Linked DNA regions of Homo sapiens. The protein of the gene in region 2 interacts with the protein of the main gene of each other region in a biochemical or structural test. Each region holds a gene or a part of one and is shown on either strand. Other genes may lie near its edges.

Region 1 (7,287 bases), on a different chromosome or scaffold from region 2:
AAGAAACAGGGTCTCACTTTGTTGCCCAGGCTGGTCTCAAACTCCTGGGCTCAAGCGATCCTCTCGCCTCAGCTTCCCAATGTACTGGGATTACAGGCCCGAGCCATCGCACCCTGGCAAGAAAAAAGTTGTAAGAAACTGTTAATAGTGGTTACCTTTGGGGATAGAGACTGATATAAATGGAAAAGGAACGGGAGTGGAGAGGTGGAAGAAGGAAAAAGGAAGCTTTCATTCTTCACTGAATAGCTTTCCTACATATAAAAAAGTTGTTAAACAACTTGCGGTGGCTCACGCCACAAACCCAGCACTTTGAGACGCCGAGGCAGATGGACGGCTTGAGCCCAGGAGCTCGACACCAGTTCAGGAAACATGGCAAAGCCCTGTCTCCACAAAAAAGTAGCCAGGCATGGTAGTGCCAGCCTGTAGTCCCAGCTACTCGGGAGGTTGGAAGGATCACCGGAGCCCGGCCGTCGAGGCTGCAGTGAGTCGTGATTGTGCCACTGCACTCCAACCTGCATGACAGAGTAAGACCTGTCTCAAAAAACAAAAAACCCCAAAAACCTGGATTAGAGCAAATATGTAACAATATGCAAAACAATTTTACTTTAAGTAAAGCAAAAATGTTATCAATAGCTTCTAATTATGGCAACGCCATCTCTTCTGTTCTTTGAAAACCACAGTCAAAGCAATCGGAATGTTAATAGTTAGCTTTCCGTATCAGCAGGTTCCAAACACTCAAATCCAACCAGCCTGGGGTGGAAAAGACAATATTTGTGGGATGCAGAACCTGGAAATACAAGGAGCTGACTCTTCCCATGAGCGGGTTCTGCAGCAGCGCATACCAAGGGATGACCATACCTTAGCGTTCCCTCCTAAAACTTACAATATCAATGCTTAGCTTTCTTGCCAGTTCCTCATCACTTTTCAGTTGTTCTTCCATCGCTCTTCGCCTTTTTTCTGCCTGTCTTTTTTCCTCTTCTTCCTCCTCTGCCAACAACCTCTGTATGTATTCTTCACTGGCTTTGTTTTCTTCTTCCTCGCTGGCCCGTCGCTCTGCCGCCACCTTAAAAGTGATTAATAAAGAGCAATCCTTCTCTGAACGTTTTGGTATACTTGCAATATTTCATAACAAGAATAGAAAAGTAGAAAAAGAACAAATTGGCAGAAATTTAAATGATCTCAAATGAAGTACAAATCTGGAGAAGTAGATTCCTGCAAGATAGCTGTCCCATCTCAGCCTCCCAAAGCACTGAAATTATAGGTGTGAGCCTCCACACCTAGCCTGAGATGTATTACAAGTGAAAATTATACACAAAATTTTGAAGACTAACAAAAAAAGAGAAAAATCTCTATTTATGTATAACTTCATATGTAATTAAAACATAATGCTTCACTATAAACACTGCTTTTTAGGTACTTTTCCTATTTAGGAACTTCACAGCTAGCCCTTTAACCTTTCCTCATCTAAACTCACACTCTACCACCCTTTTACTTTAAGCTCAAAACTTTGGGGAAATAAAAATATATCCTGGTATGGATTAAATTAGGAAAAAGAAGAATTAAAAAATTTTCTTCATATGTAAATGCTTAGGGAACACTATCACATAAGAGCATTAATTATGTAGAAGTAAATTACAGCAAAAAACAAAGCCCTTATAAAGTACATTAAAATTATCCATATTTTGGCCAGGCACAGTGGCTCACACCTATAATCCCAGCACTTTGGGAGGCCGAGGCGGGCGGATCACAAGGTCAGGAGATCGAGACCATCCTGGTGAACACTGTGAAACCCCATCTCTACTAAAAATACAAAAAAATTAGCCAGGCGTAGTGGCGGGCGCCTGTAGTCCCAGCTACTCGGGAGGCTGAGGCAGGAGAATGGCATGAACCCGGGAGGTGGAGGTTGCAGTGAGCCGAGATTGCGCCACTGCACTCCAGCCTGGGTGACAGAGTGAGACTCCATCTCAAAAAAAAAAAATTATCCATATTTCAAGATATACTAGTTATATAAGCACAAAAAACTAAATTAAAATCTGAAACTAAAAACACAGCAGAGAAATATTCCAAAAAAAAAAACTATTTAGCACCTACCTTGCTTATTTCCTCTTCATATTCTCTTCTCAGTTCCCCAGGTTTACTGAGCAGACGAACTGGCTGATAGTCATCAGCTATTTCATATCAAAAAAGAAAATAACATTATAGGCAACACAATTTTATGGTAACTTTGGTCTTCCATTAAAACGAAAAATTAAAATATACAACTATTAATAACTGCAGCAATATCTCCTTTTGGAATTCCATTTTTAACATTTATTTTATTTATTTATTTTAGATTTATTTTATTTATTTTTTTTGAGACAGAGCCTTGCTCTGCTGCCCAGGCTGGAGTGCAGTGGCACAGTCTCGGCTCACTGCAACCTCCACCTCCCAGGTTCAAGCGATTCTCCTGCCTCAGCCTTCTCCTGAGCAGCTGGGATTACAGGCATGCGCCACCACACCCAGCTAATTTTTTATATTTTTGGTAGAGTCAGGGTTTCACCACATTGGCCAGGCTGGTCTCGAGCTCCTGACCTCAAGTGATCCACCCGCCTTGGCCTCCCAAAGTGCTGCGATTACAGGTGTGAGCCACCACGCCCGGCCTGGAATTCCATTTTGTGAGGCCAGAGGTTTAGGGTTTTGGGTTTGAAATGGCATATGAATGCATATACTTAACCCTTCCTCTAAACTCCATTAAAATAACAGTAAAGGAATTTTTAAAAACTGTAATCCTACAACAGCAGAAATTAGCAGAGGAGGTTAACTGATTAAAAAAAAATGTTTTTTTTTTTTGAGACAGAGTCTTGCTCTGTCACCCAGGCTGGAGTGCAGTGGTGCAATCTCAGCTCACTGCAACCTCCGCCTCCCGGGTTCAAACAATTATTGTGCCTCAGTGTCCTGAGTAGCTGGGATCACAGGCATGCCCAACCATGCCCAGCTAATTTTTGTATTTTTAATACAGACCGGTTTTTGCCATGTTGGCCAGGCTGGTTTCGAACTCCTAATGTCGGGCAATCTGCTCACCTCAGCCTCCCAAAGTGCTGGGACTACAGGCGTGAGCCACCGTGCCCGGCTCCAGTTAAAAAATTTTTAACAAATTTCTAGAAAATGGGAAGGCAATGAAATAGAGATAATTGATACAGCAGAAATGAAGGAAAAGAAATCCTTGAAAGGGAAGACTACAGCTGAGGTAGAATTAGAAGGGAATCTGCCTCCTATTTGCCTAGAGAGAGGCTCATAGAGTCCAGAGTGAGTAACCGTGGGACTGAAAACAGAACTCGAGATTTATAAGCTGTTAAATCAGAATCCTCGACTTACCGGCATTTCTCCCTGGATATGGGTGCAGGTGCACACACGCATATTTCTTTAAAGAAACAGATCTAGAGAGAGCCAGAGCAGCTAATGTAATAGGTGGTGACCCAGAGCAAAGTCCTCTGCGATCGGGCAGTTAGGGATGGCAAAGCACAAAGGCCAGGTTTCCATCGGCTTGAACTCAACGTCTGCCCATCACCAATACCCTTCCACATACACAGAGCTTTTCTCCTGGGCCTCATTCTCAAACCTAAAAGCTAATCCAAGGATCGTCAGACATTTGAAATACATCTGCAGGACTAGGGAAACAGTAAGCTATACAAAGAGAAAAAATCATCACCCTGGAGTTGAAAGATAATTCTGGGTCAGAAAATAACCTAAATGTGGGTATGTATCCTCAACAAATCTGATGAGAATTTTATTCTATAAAACAAGACACTGTTTTATAAAGTGTAAAAAGGGAACATCCAAAAAAGAGAACGCATCTGTCTGTTTCAAGGGGCAGCTGCTACTCAACTCCAGCTGACTACGACTACCAGGAAACTCAGGCCTGTCCGTGCCATATTTTTTGCTTTCTCAAGAAAATCCAGAGGCGGCAGGGGTGGATGGTGAGAGATGACTTCATGGGTACAATGTACATTATTTGGGTAGCAGATACCCTAAAGAGCCCTGACTTCGCCACTGTGCAATCTATACATGTAACAAAATTACCCTTGCACCCCATAAATTTATCCAAGTAAAAAGAAAAAAAAAAAGAAAATCCAGCAATCAAGATGTTAATATGAAATCTTCCAACTTAAATAGTGGCATTGGATGGGTCACAAAAAACATGCACACAGGATTCCTATGGCCTGCAGGCCAGCAGTTTGAAAAATCTGCAACAGAGAGACTAAAAAACAGTGATGTAACTCCAAAACAATTAGGGATGCAGTATGCTGAATTCTCATTTATTTTAGTCACTAAGGAGGATCTATTCAAGACAATACAATGGTATACACAGGAGAGACATATATAAGGCTCCTTAAAAAGTAGAAGGATAATCAGCTGGCTTAAACTGAGACCTAGATCAGCAAGTCTTAAAGTAGAATCTACGAAACCCTGGAGGTATCTGAGACTTTTTTTCAGGGAAACTGCAGAGTCAAACTATTTTCATTTAAAAAATTAAAGTAAGCTGGGAGCGGTGGCTCACGCCTGTAATCCCAGCACTTTGGGAGGCTGAGGCAGGCGGATCATGAGGTCAGGAGTTCGAGACCAGCCTGGCCAATATGGTGAAACCCCGTCTATACTAAGAATACAAAAATTAGCCAGGCGTGGTGGCACGCACCTGTAGTCTCAGCTACTCGGGAGGCTGAGGCAGTAGAATAGCTTGAACCCGGGAGGCGGAGGCTGCAGTGAGCCGACATTGCACCACTACACTCCAGCCTGGACGACAGAGGGAGATTCCGTCTCAAAACAAACAAACAAAGAAACAAACAAAAAACCCAAATAAAACAACTGACAGTAGGCCGGGCACAGTGGCTCATGCCTGTAATCACAGCATTTTGGGAGGCCGAGGCAGGTGGATCACTTGAGGTCAAGAGTTTGAGACCAGCCTGACCAACACGGTGAAACCCGTCTCTACCAAAAAATACAAAAAGCCGGGAGTGGTGGCAGGCACCTGTAATTCCAACTACTCGAGAGGCTGACACAGAAGAATTGCTTGAACCCGGGAGGCGGAGCTTGCAGTGAGCCGAGATCACGCCACTGCACTCCAGCCTGGGCGACAGAGGGAGGCTCCGTCTCACAAACAAACAAAAACACATGTTCAACATTACTAGTCATTAGGGAAGTGCAAATCCTGAGTACGGAGATACCGCTTCAGAGGACAGCCAACACTTGGTTTTTTTTTTATAATAGTCATCCATTAAGATATATACACACACATAATGGAGTATGCGGCCAAAAAAGGAAATGGAATGGACACGTGCTAGAACACGATGGACCTTCAAGACACTACGCTGCGTGAAACAGCCAGTCACCAAAGGACAGACACTGTGTGGGGTTCCACTCGTACGAGACACCTAGAGCAATTAAACCCGTAGAGGCAGAAAGAATGGAGGTCGCCAGCAGCCAGGGGAGGGGTGAATGGGGAATTAATTATTGTTTAATGGGCAGTTTCAAGCGTGGAAGATGAGAAAGTTCAGAGATGAATGGTGGTGACGGCTGCACAAAAACATGAATGTACTTCATGTCACGCAACTGTCCATTTAAAAATGGTTAACATGGCGGATTTTATGTTATGTATCTTTTACAATAAAACTGGAAAAAAAGTAAATCACTTTACACATTAGATACAATAAAATAGTAGCTAAGAGGCTGGGCACAGTGGCTCATGCCTGTAATCCCAGCACTTTGGAAGGCTGAGGCAGGAGGACCACTTGAGCTCAGGCTATCAAGACCAGCCTGGGCAACATAGCAAGACCCCATCTTTGTTCAAAAAAATTTTTTTTAAGTAGCTAATTTAGGAAAACAATAATAAGACAGATGTATTATACTAGAAAGCAAAACATATCATTAAGCAGAATTAAACTAAGCATGTGTGGTACTGACACAGCTACTGATAAAGAGATAGTTAAAAAATAAAAAGCCCAGGCAAGGTGCCATGGCTCATGCCTGTAATCCCGGCACTTTGGGAGGTGGAGGCAGGCGGATCACTTGAGGTCAGGAGTTCAAAACCAGCCTGGCCAACAAGGCAAATAACCCTATGTCTACTAAAAATACAAAAATTAGCCACGTGTGGTGGTGCACGCCTGTAATCCCAGCTACTCAAGAGGCTGAGACAGGAGAATCGCTTGAACCCGAGAGGCAGAGGTTGCAGTGAGCCAAGATCGCACCATTGCACTCCAGCCTGGGTGACAGAGAGAGACTCCATCTCAAATAAATAAATAAATAAATAAATAAAATAAATAAATAGCCCCAAATTGCTCTGGAAAATAAGCATATGATTAGTGAAATAGTACGTATATCAATGTGGCTGTATTACTACCAAGTAGTGTGGCTATTAAGTGGCAATCAAGGGCAGGGGGAGTTAAGATGCCTACCTCATACAATACTCGAATTCAAGGTGGATTAAAAAATGGAAAAAAACAAAACTATAAACGACTAAGAAGAACATATGAGATAAATTCCAAAACAATTAAAACTTCCATGTGATGAAAGACATCACAAAGTTAAAAACAAACTAGAAGTTATTTGCAAATACATAAATCACCAGAGAATTAGTGTCCAGAATATAACTAGAACTTCCACAGATCAATTAAAAACCACAACAGGCAAAGGAAAGGCACGTGCGATTTACAGAAGATGCCCAACTACAGCAAGCAGAGAGCTGAACTTTTGTTAAACCGTGGAATGACAGATTTTTAAAGTTTACTTATTTCTACATAAACTGAATCTAAATTAAGATCAGTGAGTTATTCAACTGCAGACACAAGTTAAAATTGTCTTCATTTGCCTTTTTCTTTTGTTTTTGGAAACAAGATCTCACTCTTGCCCAGGCTGGAGTTCAGTGGCGGGATCATAGCTCACTGCAGCCTCCAACCCCTTGGCTGAAGCGATTCTCCTGCCCTAGCCTCCTGAAGCACTGGGATAACAGGTGTGAGCCACTGCATCCAGTCCATTTGCTATTTCTTTTTCTTCTTTGACGGAGTTTCGCTCTTGTTGCCCAGGCTGGAGTACAATGGCGCAATCTCAGGTAACTGCAGCCTCCACCTCCCGGGTTCAAGCAATTCTCCTGCCTCAGCCTCCTGAGTAGCTGGGATTACAGGCATGTCCCACCACGCCCAGCTAATTTTTTGTAATTTTAGTAGAGACGGGGGTTTTACCATGTTGGCCAGGCTGGTCTTGAACTCCTGACCTCAGGTGATCCACCTGCCTTCCAAAGTGCCAGGATTACAGGTG
Region 2 (5,351 bases):
TTGATTAATGTTTGACCAACCCGAATTAAACAAACTAAATTCCTTTAAATAATTATCCTATTCCAAATTAAGTCTTCTTAAAAGGTTTATACCTTTCAGCATCTACTAATCTGGTTCCTTTTAAGTACTGAAACTTTCCTCATGACCTTTAGAATTCCCAGCCAAATAAATTAAATCTTAACACTGGTGGAGCTCACATTGTTAAAACTTAGCAATTTAAATAGAAATCCATAGACTTACTCTTCAGAATTAAAGTGCAAACTACTTAGAGATCATAAATACTTTTAATATCAGATAAATCATTAAGAAATTGCATTCTGTACTTGATGACCACACGGGAACCTTGCTAGAGTCAAGAGAACTTGTCACTAGTAATTATGAAGACACCTTTACGGTGAGCGTTATTAAAACCCTACTAGAGGTTTTGGGTGGGACTCAAGAGCAAGGGGTGGCCACCTGTGGACGAGGGTTCCCTGTTGTTAACAGAACACGTTGCCCACCTCGCAAGTATGCAGCCCAATCAGTCCCCAGGGTCTCGGTTCCCGTTGCGCCCTTCCCCATGGCCACTGCGCTCATTCATGAGCCTAGGGTGATCAGGCCTCCGGCCTATAAAGAACTGCAGGATCAGTGCGGCTCTTTTCTCGAGATAGTAGGTGGCTCTGAAAAGAGCCTTTATGTCCATCAAAGGGGCCCCGGGGGCGGCGGGCGGCCTCACTTGCCCTTGGCCTTGTGGTGGCTCTCCGTCTTCTTGGGCAGCAGTACGGCCTGGATGTTGGGCAGGACGCCACCCTGCGCGATGGTCACGCGGCCCAGCAGCTTGTTGAGCTCCTCGTCGTTGCGGATGGCCAGCTGCAGGTGGCGCGGGATGATGCGCGTCTTCTTGTTGTCGCGCGCCGCGTTGCCGGCAAGCTCCAGGATCTCGGCAGTCAAGTACTCGAGCACCGCGGCCAGATAGACCGGGGCGCCGGCGCCCACGCGCTCCGAATAGTTGCCCTTGCGGAGCAACCGGTGCACGCGGCCCACGGGGAACTGCAGCCCCGCGCGCGACGAGCGCGACTTAGCCTTGGCGCGCGCCTTGCCACCCTGCTTACCACGACCGGACATTTCCGAGTCAAGGAAAAAAGACAACGGCAACCGAAAAGCGAGACTAAAAACAAGAGGGCAGTGAAGGCCAGCGAGCCCTTATGTATGGTACAGAGGTAGGCTAGACCGCGGCGTTCGATTGGATGGCTATGGTAGCCAATCAGAAAAAGAACCTGGCACTCCTAATTTGCGTATTCCTTTCCCAGCGATGACGTAGAACAACGTTTGATCCAATCAGAAGTGAGCAAATCCTGAGCCTTCATTTGAATACAAAACGTACAAATAGAGTTACTCCGAGCGCCGCGCGTTTCTGTTTGGAGAGACTCAGCCATCATGCCAGACCCGTCCAAATCGGCTCCTGCGCCCAAGAAGGGTTCTAAAAAGGCTGTCACCAAGGCACAGAAGAAGGACGGCAAGAAGCGCAAGCGCGGCCGCAAGGAGAGCTATTCTATCTACGTGTACAAGGTGCTGAAGCAGGTGCACCCCGACACCGGCATCTCGTCCAAGGCCATGGGCATCATGAACTCCTTCGTCAATGACATCTTCGAGCGCATCGCCAGCGAGGCCTCCCGCCTGGCACACTACAACAAGCGCTCCACCATCACGTCCCGCGAAGTGCAGACGGCCGTTCGCCTGCTGCTGCCCGGCGAGCTGGCCAAGCACGCCGTGTCCGAGGGCACCAAGGCTGTCACCAAGTACACCAGCTCCAAGTGAGGCGTTCCTCGGCGTCCTGAACCCAAAGGCTCTTTTCAGAGCCACCCACACGATCAAGAAAGGGTTTCGAACACGGTGAAGGGTTATGTAACCTAATGTGTCTCCATGCACCCTAGCGGTTGCCGGGTGCGGCCGAATCTGAGCCGTGTGTGTGTGTGTGTGTGTGTGTGTGTGCGCGCGCGCGCCGGCACAGAACGAGAAAAACTGCTCGTTACAGAAATCGGGGTAGAAACTGCTCAGGTGATGTAGCTCAGTAATGTTGGGAGGCGATCAAGGACCCCCTCTCCATCCCCTCCCTCCGCGCAGAGCTATTAACTCACGACGAGATTTCTTTTTTTTTTCTTTCTTTCTTTTTTTTTTTTTTTTTTTCTAGAAGAAGTCTCGCTCTGTCTCTAGGCTGGCGTGCAGTGGCGCAATCTGGGCTCACTGCAACCTCCGCCTCCTGGGTTCAAGCGATTCTCCTGCCTCAGCCTTACGAGTAGCTGGGATTACAGGCACGCCCCACCACGCCTGGCTAATTTTTTGTATTTTTAGTAGAGACGGGGTTTCACCATGTTGGCCAGGATAGTCTCGATCTTCTGACCTGGTGATCCATCCGCCTCTGCCTCCCAAAGTGCTGGGATTACAGGCGTGAACCACCGCACCTGGCCCCAAATGTCTTTTATAAGCAAGTGGTGCATTCCTGGATGTTGAGCGCTTGCGCCCGGTTCAGGACCGGGTCCAAATGAGGTTGGCGTGCGCCGTGCAGGTGAGGAGTGCGGGTCACCTCCCCCCAAAAGACCCTGTGCCAACCTCCCCAACCCTACCCGCCCCCCATGGGCGAGGCCAGACGTGGCGCAAGACCACGGGCTCTGAGGCCATGGGTGTTGTCACTTTCCCCTGGCGGTGGTGCCTGGCTCTGCATTTGCTTAAGACTTTTCCATCCCTGCCTGGACCAGACAGACATGTTTAGATTTAAGCAATGAACATTCCGGGAGGATATTTTCCTGGCAGGATACCGCGATGGCAGGATGTTTGATACCGAATCGAAGCACGGCGTCAAAGCAGCGTCCTGCGCGGGGGAGCCGGATGTAATAAGCGACCCCAGCTGCCGGTAACTTTAACCCTTATGGGAGTGGGGGTGGGGGAAGGGGTTAATTTAGGAGGAAAAGAATTCCCTTTTTCTGAGCAAATGTAGCTGCCTCCCTCTTTAGCCACATTATTTTCTGCGAGGCGTTAGCAACGCAGAATTCCTTTCCTACCCCCTCCAAATTCACGGCATTTATTTGGGGAGTGCCATTTTGGCGCAGGAAAGCTCTTTGGCACGAAGAGTTTTCACTTTGGAAAGGGCATCGTTTACGTTTTCATGACTTGGCTTTTCTTCTTTAGAAAAAGAAGATTTCCAGTAATTGCTTCCTCAAACCGTTGTGAAAATTCGAAGTACTGAGCGTTTGTGTCACCATTTCCAGCAGGGAATAAAAATTCAATAAAGTTAAATGAGAAATAATTTTTTTTTTTTTTGAGACGGAGTCTTGCTCTGTCGCCCAGGCTGGAGTGCAATGGCGCGATCTCTGCTCACTGCAACATCGGCCTCCCGGGTTCAAGCGATTCTCCTGCCTCAGCCTCCCGAGTAGCTGGGACTACAGGCGTGCGCCACCCACGCCCAGCTAATTTTTTTAATTTTTAGTAGAGACGGGGTTTCACCATGTTGGCCAGGATGGTCTCGATCTCTTGACCTCGTGATCCACCCTCCTCGGCCTCCCAAAGTGCTGGGATTACAGGCGTGAGCCACTTCTCCTGGCCGAGAAATAATTTTTAAATAAAATTCAATGAAAAATATTTTTCCCCCAAGTCATTTCTCCAAAGGGAACCCGTCGCGTGCCTGGGATGGGGAAAGAAAGGTCACCGTGAACATCCTCGACCAAAACGGCTTTGTCCCCTATTCCCCACCTTTTTTTTCCTGCGTGATTCCTCTACAAGAATCTTTGAGAACCTCGCATGTTTTAAAGCTATCTAAAATATTTTTATTTTCAATTAAAATAGTTGCAAAGATACAAATACCAACGTGGAACTTTTTAAAAATCAAAATTCTCACATCAGTCTCAAGGTGCCTTTTGGAATATCAATATGATAGTATAATCAATTCATAAAATACATGACCAAATTTTTCTTTGTCAATGCGATGTTTCAGATGATTTTTTTCCTCCTGAATGCCTATTTCCATTCTCCATTTGCCTTACAATTTCACCCTACCATAATATATCTATTGTATGTTTAATAGTGTTTTGTCTATTGTTCTCTGCAAAAAAGTCTACATTGAAATTTAAGCATACCTCTGGGTAGTCTCTCACTGTTAAGAAAAATCATCTCGACAGTACACAATTGTTCAAAACATAAATAATTTGATGTTATCAAACAGATAAACTTTTAGTGAAACTGACTCTTAATGAGCTGGATGGTGCACCCACTCTCTTCTCTCCTCTCCTTTCCACCTCAATGACTGCACACATGCAGTGTTCATATTGTTACAGTGTTAGCACAGCATGGGATCATTTCCATATGGTTACAATGCTAGCAGTGCACGGGGTCATTTCCATTCTGTTTTGTTTTGATATATGCTCCAAAAAAAATTTACAAAAAATACACAGGAATGACAATTTTGTCATAGGCACTTTATTCAATTCTTTGCATCCCTAGTTATAATCCAAATATTAAACAGTGATCCATCATCAAAAGTAAGTGGGACTTGTCAACACCCTTAGTACTGTCAAGAAATATAGGATTTGTATGAAAAGCTGTTGAATCCAGTCCTCTCCACTATGAAACAGGTGCCCAATGACTGGAACATCCAAGCCCTCGGCCTCCTACCAGCATGGATTGGAAGTCAATACCTTAAACATTTGCAGCTGTGAAACTACTCTCACAGACCCATATAGTTCTCCACCTTAATGAACTTAAAACATAGGTTTAATAAAGTGAAACCAGTCTCCAGTAGAGAGAGTGAATGATTGTGTTAGCACAAGGCAACAACACTGGTTAGTGCCAGAGATCAAATCAAGGCACAAGATGAACATTTCATGACATTTTCCAAGTGTAATTCTCTAAGAAGGCATTTTGTGATGGATAATGTCAAACGTCAGTCAATTCATGTCTCAGTCCTTCTGATTCCCCTGGCACAAACTTGAAGTAGAAACAGGCTGTCTTTTCCTGCTACATTAGCACCCCCAGGCCCAGAATGAATGGGATTTGTCCGTCTCTCCTAGGACAGGGATCTGTTAAGGGAGAGGCAAAGAAGGTAAAACAGGATCCTTGCTACTAAGATTTTATAATGGAGAAAATTCAGAGCAATCGTGTCCAGAACCCATTTCTCTAATTATAGTGTTACAACAGAGAAAGACAAATGTTAATGATAAATGAAGGCAGTGCACATCAAATATGTGAGAATCCACAGAGACTAAGGGAATTAGGACTCACTCAACAAAATGGAAGCATTTTCTGGGTTGGAGAGACATGCCAAGATTCTTAAACTAAGCCAAATTTTTAAACTAAGCTTCATCTCACCTATCTGAGATGGG

What was found.
Region 1: the proteins of H2AC25 (region 2) and RNF168 form a complex in vitro, tested with the Homo sapiens proteins (one study listed by IntAct).

Annotation. Positions count from the first base shown.
Region 1 is NC_000003.12:196,486,516-196,493,802, forward strand, and holds part of RNF168 (E3 ubiquitin-protein ligase RNF168), read right to left. Parts: intron 2,169-7,287; coding exon 2,092-2,168; intron 1,064-2,091; coding exon 884-1,063; intron 1-883. UniProt on the Homo sapiens protein: E3 ubiquitin-protein ligase required for accumulation of repair proteins to sites of DNA damage. Acts with UBE2N/UBC13 to amplify the RNF8-dependent histone ubiquitination.
Region 2 is NC_000001.11:228,456,714-228,462,064, forward strand, and holds H2AC25 (histone H2A type 3), read right to left. Parts: upstream 1,161-5,351; 5' UTR 1,105-1,160; coding exon 712-1,104; 3' UTR 651-711; downstream 1-650. Other genes in the region: H2BC26 (histone H2B type 3-B), read left to right, coding at 1,417-1,797. UniProt on the Homo sapiens protein: Core component of nucleosome. Nucleosomes wrap and compact DNA into chromatin, limiting DNA accessibility to the cellular machineries which require DNA as a template.